Regions from separate parts of the Homo sapiens genome. Here all the other regions are linked to region 2. The links come from fine-mapping of genetic effects on gene expression. A gene starts in region 2. Each other region holds a variant in brackets. All regions are shown on one strand. Distances are between the middles of the regions.

Region 1 (10,731 bases), 72 kb before region 2:
GTATACATATGTAACTAACCTGCATGTTGTGCACATGTACCCTAAAACTTAAAGTATAATTAAAAAATTACATTTATAGAAGATGAAAATAATATTAAATCCATAGATTAAATTCAGTTTTACTCAAAAAAAAGAAGAAAAGGAAATGAATGGACTGTAAACACCCAAGTTCCTGAACAAGAAATATAAATATTCACATTATTCAAGTTAACAAATAAATGTAATAAAAGCTCATAATAAATATTTTCCAATAGAAAAAAATGTACAAAGGATCTGAATAAGCATTTATATATCTAAATGCTTATTTATCTTCTAAATAAGATATATGTGTGGTAAATACATGAAAAGTTACTCAACATCATTAGCTATCAGGAAATGCAAATCAAAACCACAATGAGCTACCAGTTCATACCCACTAAGATGCTATAATATGAAAGATAATTACAAGTGTTGATAAGGAAGCAGAGAAACTGGATCTCTCATAAACTATTGGTGAGAATGTAAAATGGTACAGACACTTTGGAAAACAGTTTGGCAGTTCCTCAAAATGTTAAACATAGACCCAGCATACATATGTTTCAAGATAACTGAAAACATATGTCCATACACCAGTATGTTCATGAATATTCTTAGCAACATTATTCATAATAATTCAAAAGTATAAACAACTGAATTATCCATCACCTGACAAATGGATGAAGAAAGCATGGTATATGCAAACAATGAAATATTATTCAGCCATTAAAAAAGAGTACTGATATACGCTATGGCATGGATAAACCTTGAAAATATTACGCTAAGTGAAAGAAGGCAGTCACAAGACTATATATTGATATGAAATGTCCAAAATAGGCAAATCCATAGAGATAAAAAGTAGATAATAATTGCTTAGGACTGGGACTTGGATTGGGGGTTGATGGGAAATGTGTAGCCATACCCTGTATGTATTAGCAAATAGATACAAGGGTTCTTCTTTGAGTGATAAAAACGTTCCAAAGTTGATGGTGTTAACAGTTGCACAAGTCTGTGAATATTTAAAAAACCAAGGAATTCTATGCTTTATATGAGTTATATTTTAATGCTGATTTTAAAAATTAGTATGATTATAACTGGGAAGTTTAAATAGTACCTTCAGCCCATATGGATTCCATAAATACAAAAATAATACCATTTTATTATAAACAAAGTAGGAAGTCCTAAGAAAGAGAATTTTAGACTTTGAGAGAAATTTAGAAAATATCTAGTCTTATTTCCTAAGTGCCCCATTTTTTAGAAAAGCAACTTTAACAACAGGGTGGTGGTTAAGTCTATGGATTCTTGGGATGACAGACAATGGGTCTCCATCACTTGATGAGTCTCCATCACTGATGACTGAGTCATTCTGGGAAAGGCATATGAACTCGCAGCCTCAATGTTCCTATTTACAAGAAGGGGGAGAAGGCAGAATATCGCTTATAGTGTAGTTATTATAGGATTACATGAGATACACATACACACACATGCTAGCACAAGGCCTGAAATATAAAGAGTGCTCAATGAAATTTAGCTAATGTTATAAAAGTGTCTTCCTCTACCTCAAGTTACGTATGTAGTGGAGCTGGGATAGAAAAAAATTTGGTTTTCTTCTCTTCTATTCTCTTTCCATTGTATCGTTATACCAAAGATTGAAAAATACTAAATTATTCTACCCAGAAAGAATGTGAACAGCTCTGATGCCAAATCACTTTAGAGTAATTGATGTTCTATGATTTTCAGAGTCAACAGACAGAATGAAGGTGGTCTTAAGATTTTAAAATGGTCTTGTGGTACTTCTGTCACATCTAGAAGTATAGTTTCGCTAAGACAGTACTTACACCCTAGCCCTGGGGATCATTTTTCTTTCCTCTGAATTCTCACTCTTGTTTGACATTCTATCTATTACATGTGCTAATCTGATAAGATGACGTAACATGACATCTGCATGTCTTAGGTAATCAAATCTGAAAAACAACTTTAGGAAGCAACTAGCTTTCGGTATTTATCCACAGCTTATCCTCTGAGAGAAACAGAGAATAATAGCTGCAAATATTTCTTAGAGTTTTGATGGCATTCTGCATGGTTATAAGGAATTGGCTCCTCTCATACATATGTTTTTGAGGTTACATGATTAATTTGATTATTTACCTTGGCAAATGTTATCATAGTAGCATTTTGATTAGCAGCAAATAAGTTATTTCTACAGAGGTGCCATGTGAGATTATCTAGGTGATATTACACAGTAGGTAGGTATTAGGAACACTTTATAAGTGTGCACTTATGCACTGCTGATTAGATTACCTTTTGATGCAACTGTTCTGAGGGGGATTTTGGCAAAAGATCTCAAAAGCCTTCAACCTTTCACTCATCATTTCCACTGCCAAGGATCTGTCTAACAAAAATCACGAAATATATTCCCAAATATTTGTTTATTAAAAGTTGACCAAAAGATTATATAAAATCATGACATCTTGAAAACAACTCAAATGTTCCATCATGATGACTTAGGAAATAAAATTAAACATGTCCATGGTTTGTATTTAAAAGATTGTTTATAATACCTTATGTGAAGATTTTACATAATATGTAAAATACTGTAATGGGTTTCAGAATAATATTCATAATAGGGTTGCAATAATTTTAAAATAACTCTGAATACATTCTATGTGTGCATATATGTGAATACATATATGCATTAAACTTTATCATTTGGACTTGATTTGCAAAGCATCATTAGTTTTTTTACTTAACCTCAATAATTCCTTTAGACATGTGAGCTCTGCAAATCTATGGACTTTGCAGCAGAATGCCTTTCTTTTTTTTTTTTTTTTATTATACTTTAAGTTCTAGGGTACATGTGCACATTGTGCAGGTTAGTTACATATGTATACATGTGCCATGCTGGTGTGCTGCACCCACTAACTCGTCATCTAGCATTAGGTATATCTCCCAATGCTACCCCTCCCCCTCCCCCCACCCCACCACAGTCCCCAGAGTGTGATATTCCCCTTCCTGTGACCATGTGATCAGTTCATGTCCTTTGTAGGGACATGGATGAAATTGGAAACCATCATTCTCAGTAAACTATCGCAAGAACAAAAAACCAAACACCGCATATTCTCACTCATAGGTGGGAATTGAACAGAATGCCTTTCTTTAGAAACCACTGCTATCAGAATAGGAACTGTGAAAACAAATGAGAATGCTCTCATACAGTTATTTTATGGTCTATCAGTATTAATGAATTGTACTCAATTCACCCTCAGTTTTTAGAGTCTGAAAATGTAGATACCATGAATGTTTATGCAAGAGTTTTTTAATGAGTATTTTCAGTGAGACCTATTATTGTGTTAATTGAATATAGAAATCCTTTATATTAATCCTTGTAAAATATAATGATTTTTAAAACACAGTAGAAAAAGTGGAAGGTCTTGTCTGCCTGATGTGCTCCCAATGTGATGTGGTATATTTGAAAGAGATCCAGTTGTTATCAAGGTACTTTTCTTGGTATTCTTCTACCTGTCATCCACTGCTAGGCCTTAAGGCTTGGCAATCTTTTAACGTCTTACAGAATTATAGGACATATATCAGACTGCATATGTACTAGATATGACAGACAGTGGTCATTCTCTAAGTCTTGTATATATTTCCTGTTTCTGTTTTGAGTAAAATGTCCAATACCACTGGGAATGCCTATTTAACATTGCTAAGAGAACAAGAAAATTTATCTTCTTTGGATCTAACCATCTGAGCCAACTCTATTTTTTCCTAACCACTTTATTGAGGTGCAGTTGACATATGAAAAGCTGTGTATATTTAAGGTATACAACTTGGTGAGTTTGGGAATAAGTATACAGCCATAAAACCATTACCATATTCTATGCCATCAACATATCCATCACTTCCAAAGGTTTCCTCTCATTTTACTTATTATTATTTTTGTGATAAGAATGCTTAGTATAAGAGTTAACATTTTAGCAAATTTTCAGCATACAATACAGTATTGTTAACTATAAGTGCTGTGGTGTATGGTAGCTCTCCAGTACTTACTCATCTTGTAAAACTAGAGCTTTGTACCTTTTGACTAACATCTCCTTGTTCCCTACCCCCAACCATCCCCTGACAACCACCATTCTATTCTCTGCTTCCATGAGACTATTTTAAATTTGCCATAAAATTGGTATCATATAACATTTGTCCTGTTCCTGGCTTGTTTCACTTAGCACAATGTCCACCACATTCATCTGTGTTGTCACAAATGGCACAATTTGCTTCCTTTTCAAGGCTGAATAATATTCCATTGTATAGGTACATATATATGTATATACCACATTTTCTTTATCTATTTCTGTAAATGGACATTTAGGTCACTTCTGTGCCTTGTCTATTGTGGACAGTAGAATTAAAATCAGAATCTTGAAGAGATTATTACCACTCCCATGTTCATTGTAGAACTATTTGTAATAGCCAGCTCTATTCTTTTTCCAAAAGAAAGCTGAACTCATGTGAATACATAATGCAAAAACTGGAAAGTATAATAATTATACAAAGAAATAGAGAAGCTAAAAAATCGGCATTCAGTCATTGCTTTTATCATCTCATTGGTAAATTCCTTCAGTATGATGGTGAGGTGCCTTATGTTACCATGTTCTTGCACAAGCAAAACAGTGACAGTGGTCAACAATGCCCACATACACTGAACTGATGGTATGCATTCCACTATCAGGTAGCTCTTCCTGTAAGTATTACTCTAACACTACCCATGGCTTCTCCCCATAACCTCTGCCACTCTGAGGTCAAAGTAATTCCTAGTAGGCTGCTTCACAGAAACTATTTTGACAACTGCTTAAAAAAAACCATATATATATATATATATATATATATATATATATATATATATACACACACACATGTATCTCCTGATACACATATATATATCTCCTGATATATATGTATATCTCCTGATATATATATATATGTATATCTCCTGATATATATATATATATGTATATCTCCTGATATATATATATATATATATATATCTCCTGATACATACATATACGAATATATATATATGGAGAGATATATATATATATATAGAGAGAGATATATATATATATGGAGAAATATATATGGAGATAAATATATATCCCTTTCCATATATATATATCTCCATATATATGTATATCTCCATATATATCCACATATATATATATATATATATATATATATCAGGAACACTATGCCAGCAAATTAGTAAACTGAATGTTTCTTGATTTTTTAAAAAAAAATTTTCCTTCCCCAGAAAGAGAGTTGTATCAAACAGTAAAATGGCTATTTTCTTTTCAAATAATTTACATTGATTTTTTGAAACATCTTTAAAATTCACATTAAATATCCTAAGAGTCGATGGTGTTTTTATTTTAACAGAAAGATTAATGATTCACCCGAAGTTCGACATTATGTATAACTCAGAACTCTTCACAGCAACTTTCAAATAAGATTATCAGAACTTCTTGCATGGATTGGCACAGGACTCTGGGATAAATTATCCTGGTAAGAATTTTGAGACTTACTACTCTGGACAAGAAAGATAAACTACAGAGGATGCTGGCTTCCTCCCCAAACTGAACACTATAGATGCTACATAAGAGAGAGAGGAGAAAGATGGGTCCACTGAACTAACATGATAACTGGATTTCTGCAGGGAGGAAAGGCAGACGTGGTTTGTTGTGAAGGAGACAAGCAGCCTGCAGGAGAGACAGGAATCAGGTAACACTGTTGGAGCGAGGCTGGCAGAGGAGGTTTTAATTCTTTAGTTTCATTTTTTGGTGAGAGAGAATAGAAGCATCCTACATGGCCACCTATTGTCCAAGGAATAACCTCAGTACAGTCCCAACAAGAGTAACGAGATGACGGAAACAAGTCCGACAAGGGAATACTAAATTATCCCTACTTCTCCTGTTCTTGTCCCCACAATTGCTCCAGGAACTAGTAGGTTATCTCCACCATCTTCTAAGATGATTATTTTAGAATTACCCGATGAATTTAATGGCAATTCCTAAGGGACGTCATTTTCCTGGTAGCATGTAGTAGCAATGTCTGAGGCATTCACGAAAACTGTAGTAAGCCTCAAAGGAAGCTTTAATACCTTCCCAAAAGCGCAATATCACATTGTCTGTATTTTCTATGGTAGAGGAAAACTTGAAATTAATAAAAAGTAGCCAGAAAAAGAAACTTTTTGTTCTTAAAACTAATACGCTTTCCTCTGTCTGATATGTTTATTTTTATTGAGTATAATTTGTTCATATCCATCCATTAATTTTCATGACTGTATGATACCTGGATAATATTGCATAAGGATATACTAATATACGTGAGAATGAAGTGGTTTAAGAAACCCTCTTCCAAAGAGCCTCAAGTAACCAGCAGCCTGGGCGACAGAGCGAGACTCCGTCTCAAAAAAAAAAAAAAAAAATAGAAGTTTTTATTCATAACAATAATGCAATCATTTATTAAACAGCTATTATGCTTAATTTGTTTCTTATGTATTTGTGTCTAATTCTTAAAAACAACTTCTCACATTCAGAGTTAAGTAACTTGCCCAATG[T/C]CACATGGTTAGTAGAGGTTGAGTCAGGATTTGAGCTAAGTTTTGCAAGATCATGAAGTTCACTCTGTTTATAGCAATAACCATTCAAGCTGAAGATAAATGTTGTCTAGAAGTGGATTTGTAAAGAATTATGTATGTCTGGTTGAAAATCATGTTAAGAACGTTAGTATACTTGTATTTTTAGAACTATACAATTCATTCATGAAACAATTTTTATTGAATGTTTACCATATGGAAGACATCACAGAAAATATTTACTGATAAAAAAGGAAAAGCTGTAATCTCTAAGATTTCAAATTTAACAAACAGCTGTCTACAAATAACAGAAATGAATCTCCTCAGGAGTCATCTTGAAATTACGCTAAAATGCAATTTTCCTTTGAAACTGGAAAATCCACTAAATGAGACAACATTTGGTAATTGGTATTCTTCAGCAACTAGTAGGCTGCATAGTGGGGAAATGAAAATAGTAAAACCATGAAAGAATAGAGGGAAAAAAGGCTTATAAACTAAACCATCAACATAAATGGCTCTTCTACCTTTTTACTGTTGGCATGTAATGTACTAGGCATGGTGCAATTTGCACTCTTTAAAAGTCATTTCTAAACAAAAACCTTAGAGACTTTATCTTTCCTAGTAAACACTTATGATTATAGGTGGGGATAAGAGACAAAATTGTTTATCAAAGAATAGTCCTTTTATACAGACAGATGAATAAGAAGTTTCCTCTCATTGAACTTTGAATCAAACAAGTAGCTTAAATGTAAAGAGTTTAATTACAAACATTAATTCCAATACAGTCTCGGACATTTTAGCATATACAGTTTCAAAGAAAAAAAACTTCTAATTCAAAACTATTATATATAAAATAAAGCAAATATTTTCTCATTCATTTCAAATATGGATGTTTGCTTAAGTCTTTGGTCTAAGTAATATGAAACGGTATACTAACTCATCTACCGCAGACACTAAATATTTTAAACTATTTGATCTTGAAATAATATAAAACAATATTTATAGTTGGAGATTTTATTTTCCTCATAACATGAGAACAAGTAATTCTTTTGATCATTATATGCCATGTTTTCTTTACTAATTTAGAGATTTCTTCATTTATCTTTAGATTTATGTCTCTATTTCACAATTGTTTAATTGTAATACAGACTAGTTTATGCGTATATACTCTTGATTATGTTGTCAATTGTATTTATCATTTATCAAAGATTATTTTTCATTGGTCATGTGTCAAAATATTTCTGACAAGAGACAGAGAATGGAAATATAAGGGTGTAATGAAGTGAATTTTTATGACCAGAAATACAAATCCATGAACCAAAAATGATTCATATGTGTCTGTGATCTTTGAGAATTAGGCTTCTCTTATTCGAAGATAAAACCTATACCAATAAAATATTCTTACAGAAAATGTAGATTTAAAGCACTTTACTTTGAACTCTGCACAAAGAATATGCTTTAAAATGTTGAGCAACTGACTGAGATGTAATTACATTTGACGTATTAAACCTCTCTAGGAATTTTCATTATGATCTTTCCTTTGGGCAAATTGAGCAAGTCTGACCTTTGGCACATTCAAGTTTGAATCTTATGTCATAACACATTATTTGAAAACAAACTAAAAATACAATAGAAACATCTCATCTCATGATGTCTACATGAAATGACATAAAATAGTTAAAACTCAATTATCCATAAATAAGCATTTCAGCTTTCCACCACCAAAACTAGAATACAAAAACTGGTTTTGAATAATTATTTGTTGTGATGGCCTCTCAACTGCCTTCCCACTTTTGGGCCTATAAGGCAGGTCATACTCCTTAACATTGCATCATAAAAGTCAGCTTCAGATAGCGACAACATTGAAGGACATTGTTTGAGACCCCTCAGCCACCAGTCCATTTGATCTTAAGCTGTTTTCACCCTCTGGTTCTGCTTTCTTGACTTGACATCCAGCGCGTATCCCTCTGTTTTGTCTTTCTCTTACGGATTTGTTGCTTTTTTTCCACTCTTTTGGCATTTGGGCATTATGGGCTCTGTCTTAACCCACCCCTTTAGTCTTAGCTTCTCTTACTGTTTTTAGGGGGTTATGCTCCTCTACTTCTAAGCCCTGCAGAATAGCATCCCTTCTTTGGTTTCCAGAAAAGTCATCACCATGACCATCATCATTATAACTAATGTGCTGTCTCATGTAATACTCATAACAACCTGATGAAGCAGGTACTATTATTTCCCCATTTTGCCTTGGTCAGTTGTAACTACATTTGAATGGCTGAAAATGTCTCATCGCAAGGATCTTTCTGGGCATAATGCCTTTGCCAGTGCTTGGAGACCTTGATAACATTCTTGGGTGTCTGGCTGTTACTTTCCACTGCTTGCTACATGACAGATATGAACTTAAAGTGTTCTAATAATAAAATCAACTTGGCTAGTGCAGGCTAAAATTTGGGGCTTAGGATAAGCCCAATTCAAGGCAGTGTTTCTAAACTCTAAAGGCAATCTTGGTCATCAGCTGCTACTCTGTTTCCATTAGTATATGTGACCTCACTAAAACCATCTATCTTCAAACTAGGTATAGACTTAGAGACAGTAAAACCAGGAACTTTTAACAAAAGGGTACCCTCCCCACCCCAATCAGTATTGTAGGTACCTGCCAATTTTGACAGCAACAAGTCAGGTCGGGTTGGGTAGTCCCTGAACAGAGCATGAATACATGTTATTTTTAGTTCTTAGAATACTATAATCATGTCCAGGAGCTGAGTGAACCACTGACCTTTCCTAAAGAGTTAAATTTACTGAGGAAAATTAGGAAAAGAGGGAAGAGGGGTGAAATTTGAAGTACAGATAAGGAAACTTAAGAGTCACTACATATCCTTGTTTGTCCCAGGGGGTATTCCAATCCAGAACTGTTCCTAACATGTCTAATAGTTATGATTAGTTGAAAAGCAGCCAGGGTCATAGAAGTTGGCCTGGAAATGGTGCTATGCAAGCTATCCCAAGTATTTTCCATCATTTTATTTCTTTGCTCAGATTTTCTATATTTTTATTTGTTTTAAGAGGATTTGTAATTGATTTTTGGTGTGTTTTATGACAGCTGCTTTAAAATCTTTGTCAGATATTCCAACATCTAATTTATCTTGTTATTATTGGCACCAGTGGATTGTCTTTCCTCATTCAGATTGTAGCTTGCCTGGTTCTTGATGAATGATTTTCTGTTACATCCTGGACATTTTAGTTCTTATGTTAGGAGACACTTGATCCTATTTACACCTTCTGTTTTAGCAGGCAGTTGTCCTGTTTAGGTTCTGCTTGTCAGGTCTGTCCTACTTTTATTGGCTTTAGTTCCAATGAAAGTTTAGTTTTCTGAGCTCTTGCAATGTTATTCTGGTTGAATGGTTCTTCATTTTTCGCATGCTGTTGGGCTTACTGCTCAATCAATGTTCTGGTGTCATCTGTGGAAGTGGAAGGTACTTCCTTGGGCTACCTACTGTCATTGGGCAACCTGGAGAGGGCCACTGAGGAACAGAGAAAAGCGAGGATATGCCATCTTGTTCCAGAATTGGGATCCAGCCCAGGTCATCAATCATCCCTCTAAGCGTTCTTGAGAGACTTGACTGCCAAATGAACAAGGATGTTGTCCAGAAAACACTCAGGTAGAAGAACATCTAGATGACAACTTTCAATAGAGTATTGTACTCCTTTTCTTAAAGTCAGCCTTCTATTTCTCAGTCTTACCTTGTGCTTTCTGTAAGGCTCCAGCTTTGTGAAAACCCAGGCTCCATGGAGTTGGCCAGGAGGCCTGCTACCAGGGGATTGGGTAGAAATTCCAAGCAGTAACTCCACTGAGGCCTTAGAATTCCTGGCACAGATAAGCTCTCTACTTTCTTCTCTTTGAAGAAAATGTTTATCCCATAGAGGAAATAGAGGGTGTTTTTTATTATTTACAAAACATTTTATTCCAAGATTACCTGTCTACACACCACTCAAAAACTACTTAGTATTCCCGATGCTTGTTCAAAGATCCTTCTATTCCCCAATTATATCTCAGCGTGATTTTTCTTCATTTTCTGGCCCTAATCCAGCACTTGACT
Region 2 (10,731 bases):
GGCCACTCAACTAAAGTTTAAAGTTTTACAAGGAAAATTCCTACAGCTTGCTTTAGGAGGGAAGGGTGGAGAACATTCTGTTTTACAGGACACTCCACCCTCAGCTATATCCCCTTGATTAATTATGTAACCAGATCTCCTTCATCAACTTACCGATTAGGTAATGGCAGGTATTTCTGATGCTTGGTATGGGGTCTGAGTGAGGAGGGTCCTAAAAATATTACTTATGCAGCTGTTTTGCATAGCATTAAAGTGAAAAGCTTTAACTTGCAGTACAAGTTAACATTTGTTCCAGACTTTTTTTTTTAAACTATTATTTTAGCATGTAAGCCTTATAGACATAAATCCTGTCTACTGATACATTATAAAGTCTCAGAAAAGTCAGTGATTATATACAGGAAAGTAGATAAAGGAGAAATTTCAAATGCATAAGAACAAGCAAAAAGGTATTCGTAAGGTATTAGAAACTATTAGCATTTTAGTATAAATAACTGGTGAATACAGCAAAATGAATAATTTGTGGTTAGTATAAATCAGCTAAATTCTTGTAATGCACAACTAACTACACATATTCTTCAGCCCACGGAGGCCATACAATGGAGATTTGGGATTCTAACTTTGTTTTCAAAATGGAGAAGTGCAGAAACTTTGAATCTTTTAAAATTTATCTTCCATCTGTTTCCTGTAATATCAAGATTTAGAGCAAGGTCTAAAGCTTTATCTTACGTAAAAGCTGGGTGCCTAATATGTATCTGTCCTGACCTCCCATGGAAACAATTATCAGGCTTCAGATATTTTGTCTCTCAATTTTTTAACTTGAAAGTACATGGCTATTTATTTTTGCACTTATTTTTTGTTTTTATTGTGCAATTTTTCAACATATGGCAAAGTTGAAAGAATACCACAAATGTTTGTATACCTTTCATAATTGTGTATATGTGTATGTGTGTGTATATATATATGTATATATGTATATATATATATGTATATATGTGTATATATATATATGTGTGTATATATATATATATATATATACATATATATATATGAATGTTGCAGCATGCATTTCCTGAGAATAAGGATCTTCTCTTTATTCTAGAGGTATATACCTCTACAGGTGATAGAGGTATATAACCACAATACCTCTATCACCTGTAAAATCCCGATTCCAGGACACAACATAGATAAATTAAATAAAAATTTTTGTAGTGGAGCCAAGGATCCGTAATTTTTACAGTTCTCAAGTGACTACAATATGCAACAAATGTTGAGAACCACTGTCCACACATTAATTAAATTTGTTAAATATTTTCAGTAAAGAATACATTTTGTTTCTTAATATGAATAAGAATGATAGCCTTTTAAAGTTTAGCAAATCTAAATTATATATTTTAGGTCAGCATTTTACAATAATTTACATTTCCTTAAGCTGTTCTTATCAAGTTAATAATTTTCTTTGTTAAATAAATGTATTTTATCTTAATTTCAGTTTCTTCTATATCATGATTTAAAATGCAGAAAGTATGTATTATGTAGTTTTCAAATATATTTATCTCCAAAGTTAAATGGATTTTAGTAAAAATGATATTTATACATATATATTTTAATAAAATGTTTAATAAATTAGACATGAATCTTAGCATGTGAAACATAAAACTTTTTTATAACTTTCCCCATAATCAAACTTCAAATTCGTAAGAATTAAAAGTCCGGAAAGAAAGAAATCGAAATCCAAACTTACTGCATGTTAACATTTTAATAATGTACTTTCATGTGTTAAAAACCTAAATGTTTCTTGCAACAAAGCATTATCCATAAGTGAATAAAAATAATTTTGACTAATAACAAATTATTCCTATCTTGTAGTTTCTTTGTCAGAATTAAGATTAGCATTATCTATTAATTACTTCTCTGTGGCTTCTATGACATTGTTGTATCCAAGCAAGTAAAGAAGACATTAAGCATTTAGAAACAGCCCTTAGATGTCTATGTCTGTTCTTCAGTGTTAGGAGTAAAAGCAAGCAATGTGTAAACTGATTATTTTTAATAAATGAATCAGAACAGTTCAAAGTCAGATAAGTTATACATTTTAGACTGGGGCAGAAGTCACAAGACCCAGATTCTAGGCTATGATTAGCAGGGCACTTGATCTCTCTGGGCCTGAAGTTTCTCACCTGTTAAATGAAGGATTTAGTTATGCCAAAGGTCCCAAACTTTCTCAGTTCACAGCATTCCTAGTGTCTCAGTAATTTTTTCATGGTGTTGCAAGCTAAAAGAAACACCTAACAGTTCCATTTATTAAACAGTTAAACCCAAACTTATGTTTGTCTATCCTAACAACTTAGTAGCTATTTAAAAAATAATATACATTAACATTTTTTATTCTTAATGGGATGTGCACATCTGTTGGGCACTTCATAACTTCTCAAACTTAGGAATAAACTTGGAAACCGCTACCCTCATTCCTGTTCTACAGTAATTTTCCCATAGTCCTTGTGTTTTATTACAGCAATTTACAAAAACACAGCCTCACAAAGATACGATGTCAAAAGGAATGAAGTACAATTTAATGTGTAGAAGTTCTGAACTACCTCAAGATAGTGGTTTGCACGGTGTCCAACTGATGTCACTGTGTTGGCCTTGAAAATTTAAAATATCCCATGATAGTGCCCCTGTGAGTTTGTTGTGGTGCTCCTGGGGTGCCTCAGTACATAGTTTAGGAAGCATGGACTACCCTCTGTAAAATACTTCATATAGCTACAATGTGTGTTGTAAACTGTAAAAGACAATTCTGAGGGCCTGAAGTAAGGAGCTGCAGAATTGAAGAGGAGATTAAAAAGTGATACATGTTCAGTCTGCATGAAATTCCCCTTCCTCCCCAGGTCACCTATAAAATGCCTACCTATGCCTACCTATAAAATGCCTACCTATGCCTCAAAACTCAGCTCAAGCTCCCTCAGGGAGGTTACCAAGTTACCCTTACCAAGTTAAATCCACCTATTATACATTCTCACAGTATTCATTTCACAGTACTTGTCCCAGTTGTAATTATACATTCATTTGTGTAACTATCTGGTTAATTCTTGTCTCTCTCATTAGAATGTAAGCTCTAAGAGGAAAGAACATGTCTGATATCACTACTGTAACCCACAGTGTCTGGTATATTATAGGGGCTAAAATCTTGCTTAGTGAAATGAACTGTGATAGAATAGGTTTAGCATTCATTTTGATTATTTTCCTTTATTCAAGAACAGCTGATATTTATAATAGCATTCCTAAAACATTTTTCTCATACTATTTCGCAGGAGAAAGAAACCCATACACATACAGCTGCATCTGAAACCTCAGAAACTAAGCTCAACCCAATTGATTAAAAGGATGTTCTTTGGATAAGGTAATCAAATGTTCACCGACTCTTATAGCCAAATTAATTATTATGAGATAAAAATCACGTAACTACAAAAAAAAAAACTGCTCACAAAAAAGTTTTTAAATCTTAGCAGATGGACACAAACCATACTTTGAGAACCATGTTCCACAGTGCCAATACAGGAAGTTTCTAGATAATGGCAGCTCATTTTTTAAAAATGGCACTACACTATACTGTATTCACATGCCAGCAAAACTGTTAAGGTAAGTTCATGTCACTATTAAAATAAAATGAATTCTGGGAATTTTGTTGATATTCAATTTTAATCTTAATTATGCAAAGATCTGTTACTTAACTAAGACTATGTAACATAATATAGCATATGACTTCTGGATAATGAAAATAATCCTAAACTTAACCATAAAAAAATAAGGGTATGAAAGTCAAAATAAGGTAGAAAATGACTGCACCAAATAGCCAACAACCTTAAAAAGGGTAGGATTTTTTTAAATCACTAAATTAAGATTGGTTCATTGCATTTAGTACATCTCTTTTATGAAGAGGAGTTATAAGCTACAGAATCAATAAATTATGTTTTGATATAAATTTTTCACCCTTAAAGTTCCTAGCTAGGAGGAAATTATTCTTTTACACTTACACGTTTTAGATAGAATGGCTATAAGTAAGCACAGATAAATGAAGAAATGAAAGAGAAGGGAAAAATAGAGATGGTTGATTCTGCCTCTGCAATTGCTAATTCATAAACATCAAACTTTCCCAGTGTACACTGTCTTCTTTGGGAATTTGCTCCATCTTTTTCCTTAAACTGAAAGGTGGCTTACTGAGGCTATCACTTTCCTAAAGGTCTCCCCAATACTGCCTAATTATTTTCTCTTATCACAGGATACAGGGTGGATGTCCATCTACTTCCTTGTTGTCACTTCCCAGATCACTTTCACTTTATGCTCTTCTAAAATTAAAACAAAGATCATCGACCACAAAACACAATTGTTCTTTTGTAGCTCATGCTAGAATACCCTCTTTGTTACATCTCCTTCATTTTTCTGATCCAAAATTTAGTAGCCTACTATATCTCACCCACTGTCCTTCTTTCCTCCAGCTATGGTAGAGAACTGCTCCTCCAACTTTATGTACATTTGAATCACCTGGGAGTTCCTGTGAACTTCGGGTTCTGATTTAATAAGGACACCCAAAGAGTCTGCATTTCCTGTAACTCTCAAAAGAAGCTGTGGAGTACTCTGAATAGCAAAGCACTGTAAGTGCTGTTTCTGTTAGTATCTAATCTATTAGTCCTAATCTCCCATTTATGCTTTGGCACTCATTCCCTCCTGCTTTCGGTATCTTAATATCTATCATTCCTTCACTCTTCCCTCAGGTTCCCTACATAGTTTATCTCTACCCCCTCTAAGCCGCTCAGTATCGCCCATTAAAGAACTAAACCAAAACTAGAAAACCCTCATTTAACCCTTCACTCCCCCTACATACAATCTGATGTGTCTCTCATCCACAGCTAAACTTGGAAGAAAAATTGCCTGCTTGAGGATGCCATTTTGTTATCTTCAGCTCAATCCTGTACCCACTTCAATGTTATTTGCAGGCCCATTACCCCAACACTGCATTCACGAAAGTCATCAGTGACTACACATTGAGAAAACAAGAATGACATTTTCAGTTCTCAACTAATTTGAATTTCTCAACAGTATTCAATATTGTTAATTACTCCCAATATTTTTCCACATGGTCCTCCATGACACAATACATAATAGTCCCCTTATTATCTATATTCCTGTCTATTGTAAAGACTTCCCCCGCACACCAAAAAAGGTCAAGGAAACTCCTAGCCTTCAAGTCTCAACTCAAATCTGGCCTTCTGAAGCCTTCCCAACTAGGAAAATATACAGTCCCATTGGTTGTCTACCAGTTGTCTACCAGTTAATTGTAATTCTTAGCCACAAGTTAGCTGACCCACCGTCTCTCAAACAGGTGAAGTTAAGCTCAATATTTGGCATATCTTGATATACTTTGTACAGTCTAGCTACAATAAGTTTGCCTATGCACGAAGATGGCTACCGGCGGGGGGGGGCGTCCTTACGTCCTACGTCATCACGTGCCGGGATGAGGGTGGGGCCCTCAAGGAAGACGGAATGGAATCCAGATGGGCGGGGGCAAGCAGGACGGGGCGGGGCTACGCGGGATCTGGGCGGGGCGGGGCCGGTGAGGGGTCGGGGGTGCTCCTGCTATTCAGCCGGTGCGCGCGGCGGCGGGAGGCAGTGGCTGGGGAGTCCCGTCGACGCTCTGTTCCGAGAGCGTGCCCCGGACCGCCAGCTCAGAACAGGGGCAGCCGTGTAGCCGAACGGAAGCTGGGAGCAGCCGGGACTGGTGGCCCGCGCCCGAGCTCCGCAGGCGGGAAGCACCCTGGATTTAGGAAGTCCCGGGAGCAGCGCGGCGGCACCTCCCTCACCCAAGGGGCCGCGGCGACGGTCACGGGGCGCGGCGCCACCGTGAGCGACCCAGGCCAGGATTCTAAATAGACGGCCCAGGCTCCTCCTCCGCCCGGGCCGCCTCACCTGCGGGCATTGCCGCGCCGCCTCCGCCGGTGTAGACGGCACCTGCGCCGCCTTGCTCGCGGGTCTCCGCCCCTCGCCCACCCTCACTGCGCCAGGCCCAGGCAGCTCACCTGTACTGGCGCGGGCTGCGGAAGCCTGCGTGAGCCGAGGCGTTGAGGCGCGGCGCCCACGCCACTGTCCCGAGAGGACGCAGGTGGAGCGGGCGCGGCTTCGCGGAACCCGGCGCCGGCCGCCGCAGTGGTCCCAGCCTACACCGGGTTCCGGGGACCCGGCCGCCAGTGCCCGGGGAGTAGCCGCCGCCGTCGGCTGGGCACCATGAACAGCAGCAGCGCCAACATCACCTACGCCAGTCGCAAGCGGCGGAAGCCGGTGCAGAAAACGTGAGTGTCCCGAGCGCGTCCTCATCGCGGGGGCTGGGCGCTCAGGCACGCGGGTGCGGGAGGCAGCCCCACCCCGCCCCCAAATCCCTGCGATCCTGGGATTAGGTCCATTCCCGGCACTGCCCGTGGAATCGAGGTTTGGAGGCCGGCTGGGAGACAGAGGACTTGGATTCTCCCGTTTTCAATGATTGCATTTTAAAAATTGTCCTCCCACCCATCCTCTTCCCCCGCACCAGTGCATACACACCCTCTCACATTTGCAACTTTGTTCTTTCTGATTTGGTCCTGATTTGTTGACAGCTCTGATCTGCCTTGGGCTAATGGATTAGTTAGTATAAACCTGTCTTGAAATCTCCTTCCACTTTTCATATCCGCATGGGTTAGGTTAGAGGACGGTCTTAATTCTCATTCTTCGTAGAGTTTGGTAAGGCGAGATGTTTTAAAGAGCTAAACACATGCTGACTTTTACGAAGGGGCTGAGTGCCTCTAAAGGTACTTTTTGGTCCCCACCAACTGGCTTTGTGTTGCGCTCATATTTACTTATTTGGCAGCAATTTTGTAGCGCTCATCGTGACCATATCGGTAAAGTGGATAGAAGTGGTAGCAGGTGGGAGTGGATGCAACGGACAGGATACGGTGGAGGATTTGTATTCTTCAGACATCTTTTTCGGAAGCTTGCTTATCACTTTTGGGGTGGCTTTAGGGTCTGTAAAATAAAAGATTTAGAACTGCATTTGAGAGAGGTTTTCATTCTTAACATCTACCTCTAATTCTTTTCCCCTTCAAAGTTTTCTTCTAGTTGAGTGAGTACAAACTTGCTTTTGTCGTTGTCGGTTGATTTTGGTGGAATATTTGTGTGAGATGGCCAATTTTTTGTGTGTGTCAGAAAAAACTATCCGTGCTCAAAACATTTCCTGTTGTGAGGTGGTTGTATTCATGTGTTTATTCCAATTTTTTTATTTCTAGATCTCTGAGTTACTTTACCTACATGTGTTTCAAGTTTTCGTAAACAATTTTAAGAACTCTTAAACGTCTTCTCAGACCAAATCAGAAGTGTGCATTTTGCTTAGACTCCAACTATCACTAATGGGAACCAGAAAAATAACACTTTAAGATTTACATTTAAAACCAGTTATTGGTTTAAAGTTTCATTCTAAAATTTTAGTTTCCTTTCAGAATTTCAGTTATCATAGTTCTTCAGAAGTATACTTATGAATTGGCATTAACAGAGGATAATAATCTATAAATAGACTGATGAAAATTTGGAAGTTTTATGGTACAGTGTGTCTTAAGGGAATATTGTCAAACCAGCAGTTTTCTACCTTGGCAGTTTGAGACATCGGTTATTAATACTTTTAATTTTGTAGAATGGTTTCTTATATTAAAGTATGTTTGTCTTATTTGACATTGTCATTGATGGTTAAAGTTGGGAGGCATCCCAAATGTCTGTTCTATGTGTTTATTAATATAATAATACACTTAGCATCATATATAATAGGGGTGTCATGGGTTTTATGTGTATGGTGAGAAAACATGAAGATCTCCCTGATGTGTTTTTAAGATACTGGGTTTCAGTTAGGGTGTTATCAAAGGACCTGGATGGCTTTGTAAACAAAAACAAATGCCATAATTTTGTATTCATTACACAGTTTAACATTTATGGATTTTGGTTATTTTGCGTAAAATGTACTTTTTATTAGATTATCCTAATATTATACTTACTTAGTTTTTAATATACTTGTATTAATTTCTTATAATATAACAAAAGTATTTTTTCCATTCACCCACATTTTGTTAGCATAGATGTTTATCAGATCTCTGCTGAGCACCGTATATTGCTTCTAATCATACAGATGCCTTAAATATTACCAGCTTGCTCTGTAAGAATAGGCTAGTGCTGGCATTTTCATTATCAAGTGAAAGTGTTTATATAAATTATTTTTACCTGAATGAAAAATTGTTAACTTTATAATGCAGTTAATCAAAGTTTATTTTAGAAATGAAGTCATTAAACCTAGTATTAAATTTGAGTTTTAAAATTAAACTACCAGTTTGTGGCCTAATGAGCCCCAAAACATGCCAACATTGGGGAAAATAGATCTTGTTTTGAGCTGAAAATGCTATCCAGACCTACTTAACTTTGACCTCTTAAATGAGAGCCATTTTATTTTATTTACAGATAAAATATGCTGTAGCATTATTATAGGACTGTTTAAAAAGACAGCCAATTAAATATAAATTTTATGGAATATAAGTATTCCATAAAATTTTGGAGTAAAGTAGGTGACAATTGTAACCTGAAGCTCTTTCAATCTTGAGTTGAATTTATTAAGAAAAATCAACCCCCCCTAGTGGCGGCTCTCACATTGAAAATTATCTTTATTAGTAGGAAATACATTTTAAATGTGTTCAATTTAATCCCACTGAAGTATCTCCAACATAGTAGACTCTCAATAAATATTTCCTTTCTTTTTGGAGTAATGAAGGTTGGGAAATTAAAGGCTCTGAAGCAACTTTACGTCCAATTCATGTTCCTACCTTCAAGAAGAAAATATCAAAGATAACTTTCATTATAGAATCTACTATAACTTTGCTTAGACTGTTGCCCCATACTTAGTGACCCTACTCAGAAAAAGAGAACAAATCCTGTGTTTATTTTATTCTCTTTGGAAATGAAAGTGTTTATTTATTTTGTCTCATGAAGATAGTCAAAAAGGCCATTATATAATTAAATAGAATGTTTTTCCCTAGTGATAATTTTGTATATATTTTTGTATTTTTAAGGTTTTAATCATAAAGAAAAAGTTGTAATGGATTTCAGCTTACCTGTACATAGAAAGTTAGCACTGAATGTTGGCAAATAATAGGTGTTGAGAAAAGGGGATCTACACTTTAAAATGATACCAGCTGTAGTGGTGATTAAGCCATTATGAAGTGTCAGAACTGGAAGTCACTTCTGAGCCTTAGCTGATCTTTCTTTAAAATGCATACTGATAAAAACTTTTACTTTTATTAACATATTAATAATATAAAAGCATTGTCTTGCTATTCTTTTTAAATGTCATGAATTTCATATATGTAATACTGAATTGTATTACTTACATAATACTCATTAAATGTTTTCTATAAATTTATGGTGCCATTTTTAAAATAGCATCTAAAATAAAAGAATGGGTCTTTTCATTTACACAATTATTTCTCCATCATTTTTCTTTCCAATAGCTTTAGATAGCATATACATAGTAGTTATGGACACTTGCTTATTAGAACTATGAAATGAAGTAAGTGAAAGTGTTTAGTTATAGGTAACATTAAATGGCAAAAAGAGGAAACAGGTATAAATTGAAAGCACTGGATCTAAACTAAAAAATGAGGTCTAGTTTCTTCACTGTTACAGATCTGGGCAAGTTTCTTGACCAATAAAGCACGACAGTCAGCACCTGTACTGCTACTCTCACAACTAAAACAGAACAAAAAAAAAATATATATATATATATAAACTGTGAAGACTGCTAAAGATACAAATGAAACAGAAACGTAAATTCTATTCTTTTAGCTTACATTATCACAGAACAATCAATTCGCCCGTGAAACAGTAAGAGGCAGTATACGATTATGTTCTCAATTACGGCTACGGCTGAAATGTGCTACTTCACTGGTGAATAAATTTACATAGTACGTGCTTACTCATGTATTTAATTAAGACAGTTACTTAGAAATAAATACCATACAAATCTTTTACAACAGTACCTTTCTACTTTTATGCTTCTTTTAAAATTGATATTTTGCTAGTGGCTTAATATGACAAAAGATGACTGTTTATTAGCACTTATTCTGATACAAGCTTGCCCAGTTCTTTACATCATTTTCTTCATTTTTATAATAGTACTAAAGAAAGGTAGTATTATTTAAGTTTATAGATAGGGAACTGAGATTCAAATTCAGAGTTGCTCAGATAATGAGAAAGAGTTTGGATATTGGATCCCAGGTCTTTTTGCTTCAAAGCTTGTGTTCTTACTGACTTGTGTTCGTACTGTCCAGGTGAACAGATTCAGTGATGCATACAGTACAGCCATATCCTAGGGATTTTCACTGTTTCTTCTCAGATAGTGTTATGGCTGAAATAAATTATTTGTCATTTCCCATACATAATTTGTACTTGCTCATCCCCATACTTGTGTTTTTACGTCCTTTCCTCTTAGAGTCTTTTCTCCTGTCTTATTGATTTGCTACCCACCTCCCTTCCTCTTTAAAACATTGTTTTTAAAGGCTGCATAATACTCTGTTGTACTAATATTCTATAATTTTTTTAACTGTTTTTCTTTTGGGAGGAAATTTTATTCCCAACCATTTAATACTTTAATATTTCAGAGAATACCCTTGGGACGTGTAA
Region 3 (10,491 bases), 110 kb after region 2:
GGTGTATGGAATAGTCTTAAGGTAAAAGGAAACATTTTCAACTTCTAATTCCTTTCTGGACATATCCTTTTAGGAGGAAGTTCTAGTGATGAGATCAAAGTATCACTTTTCCCCCAGAGGACAGTAATATCACTTTCCCTGTGAAAAACTAGTCCAGTCCATTTAAAGACAGGATTTTAGGATATATTATTCATGACTGTGCTTTTAAAAACCTAAGTGTGAGTTTTATAACTCTAAATTCAAAATTGTCTCTATGGTTTCATTTTTAGGAGTTCTGCACATAAGCTGAGCAGATCCTTTGAGTCAAAGCCTAAAATCTTAGACTTAGAGGTCAGGCATCTTCCATTTGAACCCTGGCATAGGCACGTATTTGCTGTAGGACTGGCCAGACTGTCAAATCTGTGTCTCAGTGTCCTCAGTCTTTAAATGGGGATAAAAATAGCACCAGCCTCAGATTGTAGAAGGATTAATCAAATTACCTCATGCATAACACTTAGCACAATTCCTTCTACATTATAATCACTTAATAATAAATACGAGTATAATAACAACGAAAGTAACAAATTATGTTGAAATAAATTATTTAACTCAGTACAGGCAGGGCCTAAAATGTTGACGTGACTTTCAAGTGTCTTGAGTTCTTAAGGAGAATGTAATCCCACTGCGATGGGACTGAGCCATAAACAGGCAGAGCTTTTGCTACTCCTTTAGAGCCCACCTCAGTATCCTACAGCAATCGAAGAGACAGTACAATACCCACAAACAGCAACTGAAAGCAATTTAAATCTCTAATGAGGTGTCCTGAAAAATTCTAGAGGAACATTCTACTTCTGATGCAGAGAAATACTTCCTAAAATCTTCTTTCCCTGAGACTCCTATAATTGTCTCACCAGAAAAGGAGTTGCCTTCCCTTTGCTCAGTTTGACTCAAGCTCACTCTTAGTGCAGCCCACATTGGCTTCTGTCCTCTTTCTCTTTGCACAGAAGCAGCTCTTCTGTTTATTTACTGACCCTCTGCCCTTTCCAGTCCAAAGCAATCAAGTCACAGTGGACTAATTTGAAGTCTTTTTCTCCCTTTCATCTATTATGTAACATCTACACAACAAAATTTGAGAAACATAGAAATCAGAGCTTGAACCTGGATGCCTAAACCAACATCCATCTCAGCAGGTAGAGTAGATGGTGAGATTGTGATGACCATATGTTTTTTCCTGAAGCATACGTACTACTATTTAAAGCATGGGTCATTTTCTCCTAAGACAGAACTTAACAAAACATGAGCCTTTAAATAAAGTATCAATGTATGTATAAATGAAGTCATCTCACTAGCATCATTCAGTTTGAAGAATACATTCAATGATCCAGAGCCAATATTAAATCTATAATATGAAATGGGCAGAAAAAAAATAAGACTCCAAATTATCACCTTCCCAGAAACCAACCTCTCTCTCACCAACTGCTCAGAAAAGAAGAAAGCAAATATAAAAGAAATATGACCATTTTGTTATTTTGCTCTTACATGGAATTGAAATTAAGCTATATGGAAAATTCACTAAATTCTACCGATCTATCTTTTTAAAAGGGAAATGTTAAGCAGTTCTGAAAGAGTGCACCCAGCTTCCTTTCCAAAGGATACTGCTAATGGAGTTGAACACACCCTTCCTGTCACCCCAGGTGCTAAATATGTGGAAGTTGGGAATATCTAAATGCTTGGAGATCCTGAAGATACTCCCTGAGGTGGCTATAAAAAGACTACGCTTGGCTTCTGAGAATGTAGTGGCAGACACTTTCACTTTATTTTATTTTACTTTATTTTATCATGGGAGGAAGTTTTATTGAGTCACCATCCCCCTACACCTCAACTTCTCTTTTTTAAAAATATGTGTAAGTTTTTTCTACTTCTGTCTCTCAGGAACAGGTTTTTGGTGGTTCAGAAATTTCTCCCACTTTTACCTGACTGTGGGCAACCTCAGCAACAGAGGCTCCTGGAAATATCCTCCACCTATTTTTCTCAGATGTGAGAACGGTTGACTGGAGTTATGAGGGGGAAGTGGCTGGTGCAGAAAGTTGCCAAAAGGGTGATGGAAAGTTCTTTACTGATGAAAAAAGAAAAGAATAATAATTCATATTTATCTTTTGACCAAGACAAGATAGGAACAGAGGTGCCTTTGCTTGCTTTCACCTCAAGCAGGAAGTGAGAGTCCTATTAGCCTCTGGGTTCTGGGAAGTCAACGATTTGGGGTTATTTTTCTTCCCGCCCATTTCTTTACCTTACTCATAGGTTTAATATTGACCTCTGTCTTTATCACTGAATCTGTTTTTCAAATTGAGCAATTCTCAATTTGTCAGATGATTTATTTTTTACATATACATGAATGTTTTGTTGAAACAAGACTTTCAGCGGTATCAGTCATGGGGGAGCTTAGCTGTGAACCCGGAGGTGAGAGTAAAGTCTTAGAACAAAGAGGAATTCGAAATTACGGAACATTTTTAACTTCTTTACTCAGTGGTAAAGAATGGAACATCTTTTACGTCAAACTACTGAAGTTGTGGGCAAAATTACAAGCGATGATTATGCAGGATAGGTTAGTTTTTGGCCATTTTAGGCTTTTCTTGATTTTATGGAGTAGTCTGAAAGGAGTGAGCTGGTGAGAGAATTTACTAGGTGCTGAAGCAATGAGAACTGACAGCTGATATACAGGGGAAGAGCTCCGTTTCAGTCACATTGAATTTGAGGTGCCTTTAAGAGGAGGTAATCAGGAAGAATTTGCAACAGTTCTTTAAACCCCGGTGGATATCAGAGCTAATCATGTATCCGTGGGAGTTGTCAGGGTAAATCTGATGACTGATGCCAAGAACCTCACATAAGGAGGTCAGGTGGCATGAGAAGAGATGATGAGTGAGAACACAAGCTGAGAAAGAACAGTATTTAGAGGATGGACTGAAGGACAAGTGGGGGAGTTTGAAAATGCGGAGCTGTAGAGGTAAAGGACACTGAGTATATCTGCTCTGGTCCTTTGGGGACTTTCCACAGCACTAGCTTCACCTTGGTTGCTTGCCAACTGCTGAGACAGTAAGTCCAGATTTTAGTATTTGACCCACGCTGCCTTCTCCAGATCATGCTCCTTGATATTACCTCTGAATTTGCTGAAAGAAAAACATTTCCACTCAAATATCACTTGAACATGATTTATGAGTAAAATGAATAATATTTTACTATAAAACATACAGAGGTGAGTCTCATAACGATATTCAGGGTGGCCCCAAGCTATCTTCTTTTTTTTTATTTTTAAAGTTTTCAAAATATTTTCAGGCCAAGTGTGGTGGCTCATGCCTGTAATCCCAACACTTTGGGAGACTGAGGCAAGAAGATCACTTCAACTCAGGAATTTGAGACCAGTCTGGGCAACATAG[C/T]GAGACTTCATCTCCACTTAAAAAAAAAAAAAAAAAAAAAAAACTCAAATGTGGTGGCGCACGCCTTTGGTCCCAGCTACTTGGGAGCGCTGAGGTGGGAAATCTCTTGAGCCTGGGAAATAACGGCTACAGTGAGCTTTGATCGTGCCATTGCACTCTAGCCTGGGTGGCACAGTGAGACCCTGTTTCAAAAAAAGTGAATATATTTAAGGTATACAGCAGGATGTTTTAATATAGAGAGTTAAATGACTGCTATCGTTAGCTAATTAACATACCCATCTTCTCAGGTAGTTACCTTGTGTATGTGTGTGGTGAGAATACTTGAGATATACTCTCCTATCAAATTTCATGTATATAATATAGTATTACTAACTATGGTCACTATGCTATACATTAGATCTCTAGAATGTATTCACCCTACATACCTAAAATTTTATACACTTTGACCAGCACCTTCCCTTTCTTCTCTCCCAGCCCCTTCCCCTAATAACCACCATTCTACTCTCTGCTACTGTGAATTCAGCTGTTTGAGATTCCACATCTAAGCTATCTTCTTTATTAGCCATTGCTAAAGAGTCACTGATAAGCCTGCTTCCTGTCTGTTGGGTGCAACTAAAAAGCAGACCCTTGATCTGGCATTCTGGTGGTGAAGTGACTTATAGCTCTAGAACCTCCCAACCCAAGCCATCCTACGGCAGCTGTTCTGAAGTTGACTTTTATAGCTTCTACAGAACTGTAAGCTTGCCGTTGAAAGTGGCACCTAGCCATTTATTCGCCAGTAATTATAAGCAAATGAATCAAATTTGAAGCAGGAGTGTAATAAAATCAGTAATGGATAGGATTTTAAGCAACAGGCAAACTTCTAAGAGGGGCTGGCACCCCTTTTTAAAAATAGATTAATGTCATCTGCAAACAGAGACAATTTGACTTCCTCTCTTCCTACTTGAATACCCTTTATTTCTTTCCCTTGGCTGATTGCCCCGGCCAGAACTTCCAATACTATGTTGACTAGGAGTGGTGAGAGAGGGCATCCTTTTCTTGTGCCAGTTTTCAAAGGGAATGCTTCCAGTTTTTGCCCATTCAGTATGATACTGGCTGCGGGTTTGTCATAAACAGCTCTTATTTTGAGATATGTTCTATCAATACCTAGTTTATTGAGAGTTTTTACCATGAAGGGGTGTTGAATTTTATTGAAGGCCTTTTCTGCATCTATTGGGATAATCATGTGGCTTTTGTCATTGGTTCTGTTTATGTGATGGATTACGTTTATTGATGTGCATATGTTGAGCCAGCCTTGCATCCCAGGGATGAAGCTGACTTGATTGTGGTGGATACGCTTTTTGGTGTGCTGCTGGATTCATGTCCTTTGCAAGGACACGGATGAAGCTGGAAACCATCGTTCTCAGCAAACTAAAACAAGAACAGAAAACTAAACACCGCATGTTCTCACTTATAAGTGGGAGCTGAACAATGAGAATACATGGACACAGGGAGGGGAACATCACACACCGGGGCCTGTCGGGGGCTGGGGGCTAGGGGAGGGATAGCATTAGAGAAATACCTAATGTAGATGACATAGGTATTAGGGTAGATGGGTGCAGCAAATCACCATGGCACGTGTATACCTATGTATACCTATGTAACCTGCACATTCTGCACATGTACCCCAGAACTTAAAGTATAATTTAAAAAAAGGTAGTAAGATGATAGATTTAAACCCAAATATATTTGTAATTACATGAAATGTCAGCAAAGTAAGTACTCTAATTAAAAGCTAAAGATCGCCAGATTGGAAAAAAAAAAAATATGCTACTTTCAAGAGATTTTCCTTATATAGAAGAATATAGAAAAGTAAAAGAATGGAAAATGTATAACATGCAACCAATATGAAACAAAATAGAATTTAAGGCAAGGAATATTATTCAAGATAAAAAGGGAAGGCTGGGTGAAGTGGCTCACACCTATAGTCACAGCACTTTGGGAGGCCAAGGCAGAAGGATTGCTTGAGTCCAGGAGTTTGAGGCAAGCCTGGGCAACACAGTGGGACCCCATATCTAAAAATAAAAAATAAAAATAAATTTTAATGAAAAAATAGATTAATGGCAGAGCAGACTTGAGAGACAAATGGTTCTTGCAATAAGCGACAGCGGTATTAAGATGTATGTTCAGGATCTCATTGGATAGAGGATTAGGAAAATTTCTTTGTTTTAATGTTTCTTAGTAGACCTTTTTAGAAAGAAGGGCAGTGTGAAAATAATATCCTAAGAGCTCATAACGGCAAATGCCAAGGTTTGTGTGGTGTGTGTGTGCGCGCACGTGTGTGTGTGTATGCATGCCTGTGTAATATTATGAGATAATACAAGGGAGAAGGGTGATTCATGGAAAGAGTGGACGAAGGTTTCGAAAGCTACCGAGTGAGAAAAGGTCTGATGAGTATTTATTTAGGAATTATGATGTCACTGGTGACCTTAGCAGGAATAGAATCTGTAAAATGCTAGGGGCAAAACGGGGTTACAGGAAGGTGAAGAGTAGACAGAGACTTCCTTTTCCAACAGTATTGGCAGAGTAAATATCCTGAAAATCTATCCTGCTACAAAGCACCTAAAAGTAGTAGATACAAAATGAAAAACACATTTAAATGCATGCCTGTGTTGGAAAGAGTAAGGGAAACCATTGGAGTTATCAGAGGCTAAATGTTCTGGGAAGGACCAATTCAGAGAATTGTAAGCAGTGAAATCATCTATGAATTCCAGGGGCCTGGGGCTTCAGTTGTGACACAGATCAACTCAGGTCGGCACAATGGGAGAGTTAGATTCAAATTCTGGAACCCATAATGAATTACATCTTCAGTGAAACTGCAAATTAGGAAAAAAATAAAAATTAAAAACAACCTGCCCTGAATGAAGAAACAAATAAAACTGGTGAATTTTTTGAGCATCTTGTGAGAATTTATAAGTCGGAGCTAGTCCTCAAATGGCCCTAGGTTAGGGTCTGTGATGGTTAATTTTGTGTGTTAATTTGACTGGATTGAGGGATACTTAGATAGCTGGTAAAGCATTATTTCTGGGTGCATCTGTGAGGGTTTTCTGGAAGAAATCGGCATTTGAATCAGTGGACTGAGTAAGGAAAATCTGCCTTCAGTGTGGATGGGCACCATCCCATCAGCTGAGGACTAGAATAGAATGAAAATGCAAAGGAAAAGCAAATTTGTTCTCCTCCTTCAAGCTGAGATACCCTTCTTCTCCTGCTCTTGGACATTAGAACTCCAGGTTCTCCAGCCATTGGACTCAGGCACTTGCACCAGCAGTTCCTGGGTTCTCAGGCTTTTGACCTTGTGCTGAGAGTCATACCATCAGCTTTTCCGGTTCTCCGTCTTGCAGATGACCTTCTCAGATTTCATAATTGTGTAAGCCAATTCTCCTAATAAATCTCTCTTATATATCTATCCATCCATCCACCCATCCATCCTATTAATCTCTGTACAATTCTGACTAATACAGGATTCCCTATCTCACCGACTGCATTGTCTGAAAAAGACTCCTGCCACCCTAGATTTGAAGCTTCCTTAACTGCCTGACAGAAGCAAATAATTTTCTCTAGATGAATCAACTGTCAACCTCAAAGAACTTCCATTTATAAAGTCCCAACATTATCCCAGAATCTAAAATTACAAAATGAAAGAAGAAATAGGAGTCAATTTCAGTAGAAACAATAAACAAGAGAATCAGCCCTAGATAATGAACTAGTTACATTTATACTACAAAACTGGTATTTAAAGTTAAAGAAAAAGAATAAAGTTGGAAAAGAAAGTCACATACATGAATGAGGAAGAAGTGACTATAAAGATGACTAGGCAGTTCTAATAAAAACTAAAAATAGGACATTCAGAAATGAAAATTACAGTACTTAAAATTAAAAATTCAATAGGTATACTGCTTAGCCTATTAGACATGACTGAAGATAGAATGACAAACCTAGACTATAAAGCTGAAGTAGTTGGCTCTAACAGAACACAGAGAAACAGAGGGAGTATAAAAGCAGTAGAGAGACATAAAAAATATTTGTAAGATACAACATATATCCAAATCAGAATTCCACAAAGAAATATCAGAGAAATGAAAGAGAGATAATTTCAGAGGGAAAATGTCTGAGCAATTCCAGAATTCCAGATGACATGAATCTTCAGATTTAGAAAGCAAAACAAATCCCAGTCTTCACTGAACTGTAGAACACCAGTGAAAAAGAACTTTTAAAAATCCAGAGAGAAAAACATTGCCTCCAAAGAAATATTTACAGTGATAGCTGAATTCTAAACAACAACAATGGAAACCAGTAAACTGTGAGATCATATTAAATCCATGAAAAAATGCTTATAGCTACATATCTAGAATTGTAAAATTGTATGTCATTTTTAGATTAAAAAAGATCAAGAGAGTCCTCACAAACATCTTTTCCCTACAGGAGCTTCTAAAATATATATTTCAGAAATAAGGAAAATGCTTTCAGAAAAACTGAGTTCAAGAAGAAAGGGTGAGCGAAAATAAAGTGGTAAATGTGAGTAAATCTAAACAAATGTTAAATATAATACTCAATAATAATGTCTAATTTTAGAGTATATTAATTTTTTATTGCTGTGTAACAAAGTACCACAAATTTAGTGGCTTAAAACAATACAAATTTATTGACCTTAAGTTTCCATGTGTCATGAGTCTGGGCACAGTTTAATTGGGTTCCCTGATCTGGTCTCACAGCCTGTGTTCTCACCTGGATGGCCACTGAGGAAGAATCCACTTCCAAGCTCATTCAGGTTGTTAGCAGAATTAATTTCCTTTAAGCTCTACACTGAGGGCCCAGACTTTTTGCTAGCTGTCAGCTGCAGGCAGGCCACCCCATCCCATAGACCTTCTCACAGTATGACAGCTATTTTCTTCAAGCCACCAAAAGGATTTCTCTCCAGGATGTATATGATAAGTAATTATTAAAGTGGCATCCTATCACTTCTATCATATAAAATAACTTAAGGGAGTGATGTCCCATTGTCTTTGCCGTATTTCATTGGTTAGAAGCAGGGCACAGGTTCTGTCCGCACTTAAGCAGAGAAAATTGTGCAAGGGCGTGACTCATAGGAGGTCACTTTAGGGCGTGCTCACCGCAGAGAAATTGGAGAAACAAAAACAAGACTAAGTCAGAAAGGTCATGCTCAGAGTTAAAGCATGCTAAAGTCCTTGTAGGAAGTGCAAATAGACACAGATTAATTATAAACTGTATTAAGCTGGAAAGGAAAGTACAAAATAAGATGGTAGGAATTAATCAAAATACATCAGCAATCTTAAAGACACAAAACATTTTTAAATAAAAGGGTAAAAAAATATATTGTGGCTATATTATTATCAGATAAAATAGACCTTCAAGTAAAAAAGCATAATTCGAGTTAGAGGATGACTACATAATGACAGAGTAACTCTCTAAATTACCATCTACCAAATTTCACAATTCAAAATTGTATATAGTAAATATTAGCAGAGATTCCTGAATCATCGTGTGTGCTTTTGAGACACAGTGCTTGGCAATTCAGAAGTTAAATAGACAAAATCAAAAACGTATCTTCTCACAAAAAAACAGTAATACATAAAAAATGTTAAGACCACAACATACTTGAACTAATTGCTGTACGTAGAATAAAGCATGAAACAATTAGAGACAACAGAATTAAGCACATGTGACACTGACCATATAAGTATATAAGAGCCACATAATAAACTATAAAACTAGTGTTAACCAATATGAAAGAAATATTTCATAATATGTGGGCCACGTTCTCTAATCACAATAAAGTTTAAAACCAGTGATGAAAACATTATGAAAAAGCTCATATATTTAGAAATTTAAAAACAAACTTCTAAATAATACATCAAAATAGCATTCAAATGGATATTAGAAAACGTTAGAACTAAACAATTATGAAAAATTCTATATATCAAAACATGGAATACAGATAAAATAGTGCAGAGAGAAGTTTATAGACTTTCAGAAGGGATGAAAATTAATAAAGTAATCATCAATGATTTAGAATAATATTGAAAAAATAAATCCAGAAAGCAGAAAAAGAAGATAACAAAAATAAAAGCAAAAATTAACAAAACATAAGAATATGGAAAATTAATGAAACTACCTCTGTTCTTTGAAGCAGTTAAAATCTAGATGTCTCTGACAAATTAAGAAAAAAGGGATAGATACAATATCGGCAAATCACAAGAAAACAACTTCAGAAGGACTAGAATGATAGCAGAATGTTATAGACAACTTTTAATTATAATGACAACTTGGATAAAATGGGCACATTTCTAGAAAGTTATATTTTGCAAAAATTGACTTATGAAAGAATTAGAAAACCTGTGCAGTCCTGAATCATTGAAATTAGTTAAACATTGAAGTTAAACTATCTTTTCACATAAAACTGAAGTCCACAGTTTTATAATAAATTCTGCTAAATATATTTAATGAGCAAATATTCCAATTTAACATAAACTCTTCCAGAAAATAAAAAAAAAAAAGACACGTTCCTCTTTAAGTTGTTTAATGAGGCCATGATTGTTATCTTGATTCCAAAATCCAATACAAAATATTAGCAATCTAAATGTAGCAATGCATTAAACACACACACAAATTACTAAATTGACTTTATCCAAAAAATAAAAGGCTAATTAGCATCAAAACTATTAACATAAATTAACAAAATAATGACAACTTATAAAATCATCTCTTTTTGCAGATGAAAGTCAATATTCATTCACATTAGAAACTCTCAGTGAACGTGGAATAGAAGGAAATTCTCATAACTGGCAAAAGAGTAAATACAAAATTCTCAAAGGAGATATCATATTCATTGGAGAGGTGGTAAAATCATTTTCTTTAAAGGAAGGAACAAAAGAAGGATGCCCACTATTACCATGCATATTCAACATTGAACTAAGGATGGCAGAAACCACATAAAAAAAGAAAGAATAAGAAAAGAATAAACAAAATTCTCATTATTCGTAGAAGATATTATTGTTTACATAGAAAAACCAAAGAAGGC

Alleles and levels. Positions count from the first base shown, and alleles are read on the strand shown. Sizes are in standard deviations (SD) of each study's normalised expression. Not every link is listed here.
For the expression in testis of the gene that starts at base 5,661 in region 2, allele C in region 3 goes with a lower level than allele T (small effect, 0.16 SD a copy in GTEx).

The links. PIP is the estimated chance that this variant, and not a neighbour inherited with it, causes the effect. A credible set is the group of variants that fine-mapping cannot tell apart.
Region 1: its variant is the best candidate, but not a certain one, in a credible set for the expression of AHR in whole blood (INTERVAL, PIP 0.77).
Region 3: its variant is the best candidate, but not a certain one, in a credible set for the expression of AHR in testis (GTEx, PIP 0.72).

The regions. Positions count from the first base shown.
Region 1 is chr7:17,221,289-17,232,019 of GRCh38, forward strand. LOC107986772 (a long non-coding RNA gene) reads left to right here. Exons shown (of 3, transcript XR_001745107.2): 3 at 5,446-7,523. The region is part of intron 6 of LOC101927609 (a long non-coding RNA gene); the gene reads right to left. Among named protein-coding and RNA genes, the nearest start is that of AHR, 72 kb to the right of the region's middle. The variant T/C (reference allele first, on the strand shown) is at 6,626.
Region 2 is chr7:17,292,992-17,303,722 of GRCh38, forward strand. AHR (aryl hydrocarbon receptor) reads left to right here and starts at 5,661. Exons shown (of 11, transcript NM_001621.5): 1 at 5,661-6,338. The coding sequence starts at 6,274. LOC101927609 (a long non-coding RNA gene) reads right to left here and starts at 6,329. Exons shown (of 12, transcript XR_007060234.1): 1 at 6,069-6,329; 2 at 2,175-2,269. RefSeq lists silencers at 5,936-6,085, 6,136-6,245, 6,286-6,335.
Region 3 is chr7:17,400,162-17,410,652 of GRCh38, forward strand. All of the region lies in intron 1 of LINC02888 (long intergenic non-protein coding RNA 2888), which reads left to right. Among named protein-coding and RNA genes, the nearest start is that of LINC02888, 30 kb to the left of the region's middle. RefSeq lists an enhancer at 5,254-6,453. The variant C/T (reference allele first, on the strand shown) is at 3,414.